Linked DNA regions of Homo sapiens: regions 1 and 2 are each linked to region 3. The links come from fine-mapping of genetic effects on gene expression. A gene starts in region 3. Each other region holds a variant in brackets. All regions are shown on one strand. Distances are between the middles of the regions. Region 1 has its middle 38 kb from the start of FHL1. Region 2 has its middle 75 kb from the start of FHL1. Region 3 holds the start of FHL1 (four and a half LIM domains 1).

What was found. PIP is the estimated chance that this variant, and not a neighbour inherited with it, causes the effect. A credible set is the group of variants that fine-mapping cannot tell apart.
Region 1: its variant is the best candidate, but not a certain one, in a credible set for the expression of FHL1 in blood mononuclear cells (TOPMed, PIP 0.60).
Region 2: its variant is the best candidate, but not a certain one, in a credible set for the expression of FHL1 in aorta (GTEx, PIP 0.54).

Annotation. Positions count from the first base shown.
Region 1 is chrX:136,156,571-136,160,725 of GRCh38, forward strand. It overlaps a transcript of FHL1 not described here. Among named protein-coding and RNA genes, the nearest start is that of FHL1, 38 kb to the right of the region's middle. The variant A/G (reference allele first, on the strand shown) is at 1,677.
Region 2 is chrX:136,119,471-136,123,750 of GRCh38, forward strand. No RefSeq gene overlaps it. Among named protein-coding and RNA genes, the nearest start is that of FHL1, 75 kb to the right of the region's middle. The variant C/T (reference allele first, on the strand shown) is at 2,400.
Region 3 is chrX:136,195,315-136,199,594 of GRCh38, forward strand. FHL1 (four and a half LIM domains 1) reads left to right here and starts at 1,733. Exons shown (of 6, transcript NM_001159699.2): 1 at 1,733-1,820. The coding sequence starts at 1,799.

The DNA of each region.
Region 1 (4,155 bases), 39 kb before region 3:
TCTGTAGACTTTCTAATAACAAGAATTTGTAACAGTCACAAGGTTTTAAATTTCCTTTTCAGTACTAAGGAAATGATAGCTGGGAATGCAAAGGCTTTATTGGCAAGATTGTTTTGACAAGGATGGCACAAAACTAAATTTCTATACTTGATTAATTTATAAGTCTTGTCACTCACTTTTAGTTTTAGAGTGTGGATAAAGCTGTTTGATTCTTGTCAGATTTGAAATGTATGATTTATGAGACATTAAGGATTGGTTTTTCAGTGCACTCTGCCAGGTCTAGTTTTATGCGTCATTCTGGTTTGGGAAGCTGAGTGCAAGTCTGCCTACAGACATAATCAATCACCTGCACTTTCGGGTGGCCAGGTGGACTGAAGTAACAGGTTTCCCCCCAGGTTTCTCAGAGACTAAGGAATACACACACACACACACACACACACACACACATAGGCAGACCTGCAAATTATCGGTCCAAAAATATTTATATCACTAAGCCAGAGCAGTGGATTTAGACATTTGACTTAACAAAATTTGTTTTTCAACACGTTCTAGCAACTACCCTGTAAATGATCGTCATTTCACCTACAACAATGAAAAGATAAAGTCCTCAGCCGCATAGCTTCTAGAGGCTAAAGAGGCACGTTAAGTTGCTTGTCAAAGACTCCACACCTTCAGATGCCAGGGTCAACACAAGTTTTCAAACCCTAGACCCAATCCCTTCTAGGCCACAGAAGGTCTGCCTCTTGTAAGGAAGGAATTTTCCAATGCACTAAGCACAGCTAATCACACTAAGGAAAGAAACCAAGCAGCCAAACTAATATGAGGAAGTGAAAGTTTATACTTGCATCTTATAGCAGATGGCCTTTGTTAGAGCCACTTTTAAAATATCAACTTCACCGAGCATGATTTAGGTACAAAAACCGGCATCCAATTAAAGCCTCCAATTTGATGAGTTTAGACAGATGTATATACCCATGAAACCACTGCCCCAATCAGGATGTGGAATGTTTTTATCACCTCCACAAGTTTATCCTTGCCCCTTTTCCAGTAACATTCTTCCCCCAGCCCCTTTCCCCCAGATATCCCGTTATGCTTTTGTGTGAGAGCCACTTTCAAAACTCAGATTTGAAAGTTTGTGGATCTTCCTCTATAAAAAGACTATATTTATGTCCAAAATGCAATTGTCTTCTCTATGTTTAAAATAATACTACAGAGAAATTCTAGGTATTGATTTCCTAGAATCTTTCCCTCATCCTCTGCAAGTAAGCTACTTAGTAAATAGTTTCATTATGTACTTGAATTGAAGAGAAATTACAGCCAAGAGAAAAACAATTCTGATAGACAGAAAAGCAGTGTATGTTCTTCTCAAGTAGTTACAGTGAGGTGTTAAATCCCTCAAGAACCAGAGAAGTAAAATTTGAATTTTGCTTCGTACTTATTTGTAAAGTAAAAATGAAGACTGAGAATAAAGGTTTTATATGTATCTATCTGTCTAATCATTCATCCATCCACCCATCCCTCCAGCTAGTGTGTGTATATATGTTTCTGTATAAAATTACTATGTATTAATAACCCTATCCCTTGAGGATTACAAAAGATTTGAAGGCTTCAGAGGGAATTTTCTGTGCATGAAAGGTGTACTGTCTTTACACACTTAGGTGCAAAGCAAGCTTTTC[A/G]TATGCTGTTATTACTCTCATTGATATATTTAATTGAACTAATAATTATTGAGCAATTTAAAGGCTGCTGCATTGAGATGGAGTTTGTCCCTTCGTTTGTCACCTTCTAGAAAAATCCAAGTGTCAAAAAATATCTCGCTGGCTCTCTGTTCTGTTGCTATTACTTCGGCATGCGTCGTCTCCTCTTGCCACTCTCGATTTCTACTGTTTCTGCCCTATCTTCCTTCCCTGATTTTCCTCCTCCATGTCTTTCCCGTATCCTGATGCCACTTCTCTTGCACTGCTCTGATTTCTCATGAGAAAGCCATTTTTATAAACATCTCCAGACCGAGAGGGCAGCAGACTAATTCCAATGTGTCAGATAGCATCTTGGAGGCTGTTTCTCCTGTGATCCAACACTTTTTTCACACTCCTTTCCAGTTTCGAGCTGTACTGGAAATTGGAGAGTTGTGAAAGGATGGTTTTTGGATAATCAAAGTTGAATATACTTGCTGGGCTGTGTTATGACCGTCTTTGAAGCCACGAATCATTAAAAATAAGTGAATAGTTTACATTATAATATTCCTAGGAAACTTCCTTTGATAATTGTAAAGCAATTAAAATTGTCCTGAGATAAGGTGATTTATTGTTTTTCAGAATGGGCCATAAAGATATTAAAGAACCCATTCAACATTTGTCAAAACCCATAAAATGCACAACGCAATGAATGAACCCTAATGTAAACCCTAGACTTTAGTTCATTATAATGTATTAACGTTGGCCCATCAATTGGGACAAATGTACCACATCAATACAAGATATTAATAATAGGGGAAACTGGGAGATGGATGCTAAGGAGGTATACAGAAACTCAGTACTTCCTGCTTAGTTTTTCTGTAAACCTAAAACTGCTAAAAAAAAAAAAAGTCTACTAATTAAAAAAAAAAACTCTTCAAATGTATGGGTTTCAGAAATACAAAGACTAGATCAGGAGCTTTTTATTATTACCGTGTGGATTAAAGTCTACTGTTTGTGGCCAGGTACAGTGGCTCATGCCTGTAATCCCAGCAATCTGGGAGGCTGAGGTGGGTGGATCACTTAAGGCCAGGAGTTTGAGACCAGCCTGGCCAACATGATGAAACCCTGTCTCTACTGAAAATACAAAAATTAGCCGGGTGTGGTGGCATGTGCCTGTATTCCCAGCTATTCGGGTGGTTGAGGTGGGAGAATCACTTAAACGCGGGAGGCAGAGGTTGCGGTGAACCGAGATCACGCCACTGTACTCCAACCTGGGAGACAGAGTGAGACCCTGTCTTAAATAAATACATAAATAAATAAATAAATTCCAGTGTTTGTTTTTCAGAATGAGTGAAATAAGAGATGTGTTTCTCCTTGAGTGATGTAACTTGTGGCACGAGCCCCTGAAAAGGGGAAGTATGAGGTTCCAGGAGAGCTGCCCAGTACCTCCAATGCTATGTCTAGTTGCACAATAGTCAGTAGATAGGTCAGTGGGAGCAGTGGGTTGGGACTTCGCTTGCCACCCTTGAAACATCATGCCATCTTTGCAGTGGAGTCCCAGATTTGGCAAATTCCCTGCCCTACAACCCAGTGGGCCCTCTTTTGACCCTTGCATTTGTGGTATCATTAGCAACAGTGACAGTTGGTGAACTTATGCCAACTCTGAGCCAATATCCAGGTCAGAGTTTGATTGCTTTGGGCCAAAGGCTATTATTGCATGGCTTGTAGAAGCATAGGCCCAATGCCAGAACTTCCATGCACTTACTCAGTATGGCCAGCTCTACAGTAAACGTGTGTGAAAAGATTCGGTTTTTATAGGCATTAATGTAAATAGTTTCTTTATATTGGACCTGGGTAACTATGATGGGCAATTACAAGTACCCATTGCTTTCCTGAGTTGGCTATGAGAACAGAACATTCTGTGGTACGTGGTAGTGGGGGTGAGGGGAGGATCAGGTCTAAGAGGGACATTGCAGCTGCAAAGGGAAAGAAAAAAACTGAGAAGCCATCAAGGATTAGAAGGCAAATGGGAGCCATCACTCAAGCACTGTGTATCTTGAAGTGGTTGTCTGTCAGGTCTGTGATAAGACCTGGGGTGAAAAACCTCATAGTTCATGTGATTATCTGAAAAATACCAATAAAGGGAAGAGTTGATTATAGAGTTCGCCTGTTTAGTTTTTTTGTTTGTTTGTTTGTTTTTTTTGAAACTGTGTCTTGCTCTGTCACACAGGCTGGAAAACAGTGACGATCGTGGCTCACTGCAGTCTTGACCTCCTGGGCGCAAACAATCCCTCTGCTTCAGCCTCCTGAGTAGCTGGGACTGCAGGTGTGCATCACCACACCCATCTAATGTTTTAGTTTCGTAGAGGCAGGGTCTCGCTATATTGTCCAGGCTGGTCTCAAACTCATGGCTTGTTTAGCTTATTAAACTTTATTTTGTATATTGGAAATAATTCTTTGTGTACAGATCTGTTAGGTGTCC
Region 2 (4,280 bases), 76 kb before region 3:
CCATTGCTCTTCCTGTGCATTGCCACACCATCCTGCCCTAACCACCTCACGCAGCTGGAATTGCCTTTCTCATTGACCTGTACCTGTCAAAGTCCCGCTACCCTCCAAAGCCCCAAAAGGTACTTCCTCCATTAAGAATTGACTTTATTCTCATCATAACTTTTGGTGCCTCCTTGGGCTCAGTCTTGGCTTTCTTCCATGTGTTCTAGTTATTGATACACAGAACCGTACTATAAACTCTGAGACAGTAGTGATATAAAATTTTGTTTTGGCTCCAATGGCACCTAGCACAGTGCATGGCATATAGTAGGTACTCTACCAATGCCTGTGAAATAAATACATCTTACATTTCTGTAAGTGTGGAAGAATACCATCACATTTTAACAGCTTTATTGAGATATCATTCAAATACCGGACAATTCACCCATTTAAAAGGTACAGTTAGGCCAGGAGTGGCGGCTCATGCCTGACACCCTGAACTTTGGGAGGCCAAGGTGGGGAATCACTTGAGCCCAGGAGATCAAGACTATCCTGGGCAACATAGTGAGACTCCATCTCTACAAAAATCAACAAAATTAGCCAGGCATGGTGGTACACACCTGTGGTGGCCCCAGCTACAAGGGAGGCTGAGGTGGGAGGATTGCTTGAGCTGAGGAGTTTGAAGCTGCAGTGAATTATGATCATGCTACTGTACTCCAATCTGGGTGACAGAGTGAGACTCCTCAATAAATAAATAAATAAATAACATACAGTTCAATGGTTTTTAGTATTCATAGAATTGTGCAACCATCACCAAAATCAATTTTGAACATTTCCATCACCCCAAAAGAAACTCTGTAGCCATTAGTAGGCATTCCCTATTTCCTACCAACTCTCTAGCCCTAGGTAAACAATAATCTATCTTCTGTATCTACAAATTAGCTTACCTAGTTATTTCACATAAATGGAACCATAAATATGTAAGTTTTTAACGACTGGCTTCTTTCGCTTAGCATAATGTTTTCAAGGTTCACCCATGTTGTAGCTTGTATCAGTACTTCATTCCTTTTGCACTTGGAGATCCAGGTATCCCAGAATTTGTTGAAGAGGCTATTCTTTCTTTCCGCATTGAATGGACTTGGCATCCATGTTGAAATCAGTTGATCATAGACTTATTGGTTCATTTTTTGACTCTTAATTCTATTCCATTGTTCTATATGTCTATCCTTATTCCAATAGCACACTGTTTTGATTACTGTAGCTTTGTGGTAAGTTTTGATATTTGGAAGTATGAGTTCTCCAACTTCATTTTTCTTTTTCAATATTGTTTTGGCCATTCAGGGCCCCTCGTAATTCCAAATGAATTTGAGGATTGGCTTTGCCATTTCTGCAAAAACTGCTATTGGAATTTTGATAGGGATTGTATTAAATTATGAATCAGCTTGGGGAATATTGGCATCTTAACAATATTAAATCTTTTGCACCATGAACATGGAACATGTTTCCATTTATTTAGGTCTTCTTTAGTTTCTTTGCATGATGTTTTGTACTTTTCAGAATAGAAGTTTTGCATCTCTTTTGTTAAATTTATTTCTAAGTAATTTACTCTTTTTGATACTATTGTAAACTGAAGTGTTTTCTTAATTTTATTTTCAGATTGTTACTATAACATTTTGAATAAGATACAAAAAATCACCATGATCAATCAAAGTTTAAAATCAAAGGTTGTTAATATATATTTTTAGGTTGTTGTTTCAGGGCTTCCTGTGTTTTACAATGTCCAGCACAGTAACAAGGCTTTAAAAAATTATCACATTAGTATGTTTTGGTAATGTGGAAACAATTGACCTCACTAATGGATTTAAGATTATCATAAAAATTCTAAGCCAATACTATCATATCTGAGAAAAGTTAATGTGAAACTGTTTACTTTGGTTGTTCCAGAAACCTGTCTTCTAATAGTTAAAGTATTTAATATGCTCCTTGGGTGACTGGCTATTTCCATAATTATAGTTCTTTCTCTAAAAAACGTGGAAAATTCTTGGGTGTTGGCATTAAATGTCTTGTTTTCTTTAATGAACTGAAAATCAGATCCAATCAGATTAAAATTTTCTCAAGGACCAAGATCTGGACTCTGCAGTTAATGTTCTGGATGAGTTTTGTTTTTTGCAGTAGACATAAATTCACACCAACTCCTCACCTAGAGAAGTCAGTCCCTCCGTTTCTCTATTTTTCCCTTAAGACATCACACTTAGCATAGTCCTCTCTCTTTGAATTGCTGGTTCTCCTTGCTTTATGCCTAATTAAATAATAAACAACTTTATCAAAATATCTAGTATGTTATTGGCCAGAAATCAAGTATACAGTGAACATTTATTTTACTTGAAACAATATTTTTTATCTTAAAAAAGGTTTTTATG[C/T]TAGTCAGGGTTTTAGAATGTTTACCCAGATGTTGTGTCAACTTTTAAAAAGAAATTTCATAGACGGGAGGCATTTGAGAAGTTGGAAAGGACCTTAGAAATCCAGCACAGGGGTCTGTGAGCCAAGTTCAGCCTGTAGGCATGTTTTACTTGGCCCTGGTGGTATTTTAAAACTATTTAAATTAGTTGCCAACATTTACAAGTCATAAAAATCTGGATTTCTGCCTTTTCTTGAAAAAGTGGGTAAACCTGGCCATCTCAGGGCTACACTGCAGCATGGCACATACTGGGTGCATATGCACTCCATCCAGTTTCTCAGGGTCCTCCTGTAGGCTCACTTCCATCAGTTGCATGACCTGCTGACCCTGGGGGAGGCCCCTTTGCATCTGTGACTCCTGAGCTAACGTAATCCCCTTCTGAGGTTTTGAGACTGAGGTTTGGAAAAATCATTACTGCCCAAAGCTAGTCAACAGCTAATCAGTTGTCAATTTCTTTTCTTTTCTTTTTTTAATATTTATTTATTTATTTATTTATTTATTTATTTATTTATTTATTATGTATTTATTTATTCATTCATTTATTCATTTATTTTGAGATAGGGTCTCACTCTGTTGCCCAGGCTGGAGTGCAGTGGTGCTGTTACAGCTCATTGCAGCCTCGACCTCCCCAGGCTCTGGTGATCCTCCCACTTCAGCCTCCTGAGTAGCTGGGACTACAGGCATGTGCCACTATGCCTGGCTAATTTGTGTGTGTGTGTGTGTGGCGAAAGGGTTTCGTTTCTCCCTGTTACCCAGGCTGGTTGCAAACTCCTGGGCTCAAGCCATCCATCTGCCTCAGCCTCTCAGTGCTGGGAATATAGGCATAAGCCACCTTGCCCGGCCTAGTTGTCAATTTCTTAATAATGCCAAGAGTATTATTTATAAAACAGATAAAGTTAGAGGAGGGCTAATTATTCTACATTTTCAAAGGACTTTCTTGCTTGAATGGCATCCCCATTGATGTAGTTAGGCTTTTAAAATATAATGAACTGACGGAGGATCCAGGGAAGAGCCACAGCAAATCAGAGTGATTATACCTAAAAACAATAAAATGTGTTCTGAATCATCATCGTTTCAATCTATCTCCCAGTTTATATCTGACCTCCTCTTTAAAATTTTCTTTCTTGTCTTTCTTTTGTTTCTCTCCTCTTCTTCCAAACCCTATGATTTATTTATGTATCTGGGTCACAACTAAGTTAGTCCTTAATCATCTGTTCATTCATTAAATATTTATTTCAACACTTACTAGCTGCCAGGTGCTGTTCTGGTCACTTGGGATAGCACAGTGAACAAAAGGGACAAAAATTCCTTGCGCCACTTACATGCTAGTGGGAGAATGAGATGATAAGTAAACAAAGAAGATCATTTCTGATAGTTATAGGCACTCCGAAGGTGTAAAAACAGGACAATGTGACAGCTGGGGTTGGGGTCTATGAAGCCAGCCATATCAAAGTGTGGGGAAGAGTGATGTAGGCTGAGAGGAAAACAAGCACAATGGCCCTGAAATGGAAACAAGCTTCGTGTGTTCAATGAAGGGACAGGCTAATTGGTAGGAGCTGAGATGGGGGAGGGGGGCAAGGGACAGGCATGCAGGGCCTTGCAGGCCATGGACATAGGTTTAGATTTTATTCCGCATTAGGAGCCCTTGGAGGGGTTTCCTTTATATTGGCCATGACTTATACAGTTGTCTCGCTCTTGATATCCATGGGAGATTGGTTCCAGGACCACTCACTGGTGAACACCAAAATCCACAGGTATAATCCCTGATAGAAAATGTTGCAGTATTCACATATCACCTATGCACATCCTGCCGTATACTTTAAATCATCTCTAGATTACTTAT
Region 3 (4,280 bases):
CTCTTCCTAAAAATATAACTTGCTAAAATAAAAAATTCAGGGTTCATTAAGGTTAATCATCTAATAAAGTAAGAGAATTTCCTCTAGGTGAAAAGTTTCAGTTTATTTTAGGGGTGTGGTGTTGTTACAACTGGCTAATCTCCGCACCATAATTTAATCAGGCTGGATGAGAAAGAGACTAGAAAGGCGTGGAGCCAGAGCACAGTGTAGCTTCTCTTCTTTTCCCAGGCTTATTTTTTTCCTCTAACATGTAATAAATTTACTCGTAACAACCTGGCTTTTATTGTGTCATTTTCTAGCTAACTGGGAGTTACTGATGTCAGTTGTCTTTTAGAATAACTTTTCCTTAAACATTTGAAGATCGTAAGAATTGGGGAACTCATTCATTCATTTATTCATGGAGCATTTACTGCTCACCTACTGTGTGCTATAGGAACATGAAGACAAGCAAAGCACTGCCCTGGCCCTCAACCTGGTAGGGGAGATGTGTGAATAGGGCCAAAACCACTTAAACAAGACAGTGGCTATAAAGGTGTCTGTACCAGCGAGAAGGTCAGCTGCCTTCCTTGAAGTTGAGTGGCCAAAACCACTTTCAGGATTGCAGGTGGGACTATGTTTTGGAGGCTTGATGGATTTTTCAGTTATTTAGTTCATTCTTTCAAGGAATAGTTATTGAGAGCCTCCTGGGAGCTGGGCAGTGTTCTAGGCTCTGGGGCCACTGCAGTGAGCTCCAGTACTAAATCCCTGCCTTCATGGAGCAAAGCAGGAGATCAGACAGCAAGGAGAGAAATCAGTGCAATACCAGCAGACTTGAAGTAGGGAAAGGAACAACCATGACTCTGGGCACAGGGGACAGTGAGGAGGCCAGTGAGGTGGGAGTGAGGGAAAGGGGGCTAAGGGTAAGGCCAGAGAAGGAATGTGGAAGAAGGTCCTGGAGGGACTTGGGGGCTTTCTTTTCCTAGAACATGCTCCTAATAGCCAGCCCCCAGACATCTGATGGCCTGTTGAGCTATTACAACATTTTAGGTTGATGTCTTCATTTTCATTCATGTTTTTCCTTTTATTGTCCCTGATGCTGAAAAACAAGAGGTTGAGTTTGTGAGACAAAATGTCTTCATTGTGTGTGTGATGGGGATAGGCATAGTCTCCCCATCTTGTTCTGTGCTGTCTGCCGTTAAGGAGGTGGGGAGATTACGATCACTCTCCTTTCCTGTACAGTAATCTGCTGATCTCTGGAACATACTAAGGAGGACATAGAGTGACAACATCTATAATCCCCTTAATCTCTATATTCATACTGTCTAATCTCCTTGAGTTACACTGGTAACATAAGTCTATCTCTTAGAGTTACTTTTATCATTAACAGCACAAAAATGTATTATTTACAGGGCCAAATGCAAGCTCTTGAGGCATATAAAGTGGATTAATAAGGTTGGCTCAGCGTTAAGCTATGCCAGAGCCGAGTCCAAATTTTATTCCGGTACAGGGATGACTTTCTATGTGGCCTCTCTGGCTCTGGAGCTAATTTGGATGCTGAGTAGCCCCGCAGGTATTTATATGTAGCGTTTGGTATTTTTACTGGGTCCTATTCTTCTCCCTTGGATCACCTAAAATGGTTAAGAATTTTCTAGTGGGATTAAGGTTGTGATCTCTGGGGAGGGGTGGGACATCTGCTCTCGGTTATTTTTGTGTTAGCCGCTTCCCCTTAAATGTATGTTCACAAATGAGCCACAGCCTTATCAGCTGGGGTTGAGGGAAGACTGGTCTAGGTGCTGCTCCTGAACTTGGTCTCTGAGCCATGGCTTCCCATAGACACTCAGGTAAAACTTCATGCTCTTTATCTTATATTGAGCACAGTTTTGTTAGGGCAGTGAATCCGTCATTGGGCTAAAAGATGGTTTTTGATGAAATGATTTTAGTCTTGTCTGAATAGTAAATAAATTATAGCTTGTCTCTGTTTTGCCTTTGCCTTTCATGCTATTTCAAAGACAAAATATTGTTCAAGTACAATGAACAGTTTGAGTGATTTATTTTAAAAAGAAGTATATAAACATGTTACCACTATATTTTTACCTTTTTCAGGACATCTCATGAAACTATAAGAGATTGTGGGAGGAAAGGTTTTTCTGGTTAGGAATTTTTGGCTTTCTTTTTTATAAGATACAATTCTTCATCTTGACAGTGCTTTACATCCAAGGTGTTTGGAGAAGGTAAATCGAATGTGGAGCTGAAAGGAGGAACATTTGTAACTAAGAAAGTCCATAATGACCTAGCACATCTTCCCTTTTGCTGACAATGTTTTAAATCTTCCCGAAGTAACAGCTATGTTCCTTTTGATATGCTAAGTATGTTATTAATTGTTTTTAGCAGAAAAAGGGGCACATTTTGGACTCCTTGGGACATGAGCATTTTCTTCTGGTTTTGTAACCTTACAATTAAGGAAGCCCTTTGGCCATCGACAAGAAATCTATGAACTAGGGGCTGAGGGGCCAAAAGCCCAGTTATTTGAAGCCAGGAGGGTGGCTGTGGCCCTGTGGCCCTCTGCCTAAGTAACGGTTCCCTTTCTTGGGGCTGGTAAAGTCAGACGGTTAGATATAAAGAAGGCACTTCATCCTGTCTCCCAGCTTTCAGATTAAGGGATGTCATTATCTATGTTTTTTTTTTTTTTTGAAAAATCATTTTTTAAAACTCATTGCCTGTCAATATTTAAACAATGGAAATACTTTAGGAAATTTCTCTTTTTGGGGTTTTAAATATGCTGCAATGGAATGCCCTACCTTAATGAATTAATATGTAATGTCTTCCCTGTTCCCAAGTGTTCAAAAGTTGTCTGGTTTTTTTTTTTTTCCAACCCTCAGGAGCTGTTTCACAAACATGGTACCAAATGCTTGAGATTGTGGTTATCAGCCAAGATACACATTCTCTGGGTGTAGGCAAACTAGTCAGCTGTGCTAGTTGTCCTGATGAACCTTAAATGCATGTTACCTGGTAGAATAACTCTCATTTTGTTTACTAATTAAGTGACAGAATAGTGACAGAAAGTTTAAAAGTTTAAATAGTGACAGAAAGTTTATAGCATACCCAACCTTGGGTTTTAAATTGCACCAAATTCTTATGTCGTTCTTGTGTATGTAAGTCTGGAGGCTCTAATAACTGTGGCTAAATGGGACCAATTATTTATACCTTTTAGATGATTTTTGAATTCAGGAAATTGCATTTTGTATTGCATTAGGTTAATAGATTCATGAAAGCAGAGAAGAATCAGTCCATGAGACAGAGAAGTCCTCATAGAAAATCAGTGTTGCCCTGAAACGGGCTCAGTATGGGCAAAATAGAAGCTAGGATAATTGGATCCAAATCCATTTTTAGTGACTATCCATATACTGAGAGGACATTTCAAGGACAAAAACAATGTATACTCTTGACATTGAAGACTTTCTGTCTGCAAAATTATGTAGATTCAATTTCTTTAGCCTTTGGCCTTTCAAGTCGAAAACCAGGTTTGGGGTGTGGAGGGGGATCAGGTCACTTGCCATATTACACAGCCATCGATTCCCTTCACCAGCTGCTGCTCAGTGGGCCGCACAAGCCCGCCAGTCTTTTCTCAGGGCAGGGATGGAAAATGAGAGGGTAGGATGAGAGGAAAGTAATCCAACTGGATTGGCTTCTTAAAATACAGAAGATTTGAGTGAGAGTGAAACTGAACATTTTGTGCTTTTGATGACCACCAAATGACTACCTACTACTTCACCACAGCTGGAGAAACTAAAAACACATGCTCTTTTGCTGCCGGGTCAGAAATGCTTTTTTTCCCATATGAAAGAGGGGCTGTGTTGCACGTAATCTGTGCAACATTATGAAAAATCTTCATATACAGACAAAATGGTACTAGAATTGAATCTGGACTGCAGGAAGTTCAGTGGCACATAATTTTTCTTTTAATAATCTATATCGAACCCTCCTGACACCCGATATAATCTAAAATGGCATTAGTTATACATCAGTGACCCAAAAAAGATTTGTTTTTTTTCTAAATGCAGCATACCAGTGAAGTTGCTAATTACATTGAATCATTCTGTACACGTTCTATTTTGAAGGGAAAAAACACTTTCTGATTTTTGTATGAAATTGTATGAAAGACTACTTTTCAGCCGTGACTCATGAGCTCCGTCTCATTGCAGCTACTTAGGTATTTATTCCCAAATGTCTGACGACACCTCCAGGTGCATTAGCATGTCTATTACACAAGTGTCCTATTCATTGGCTAAGGCTTTGCTCCA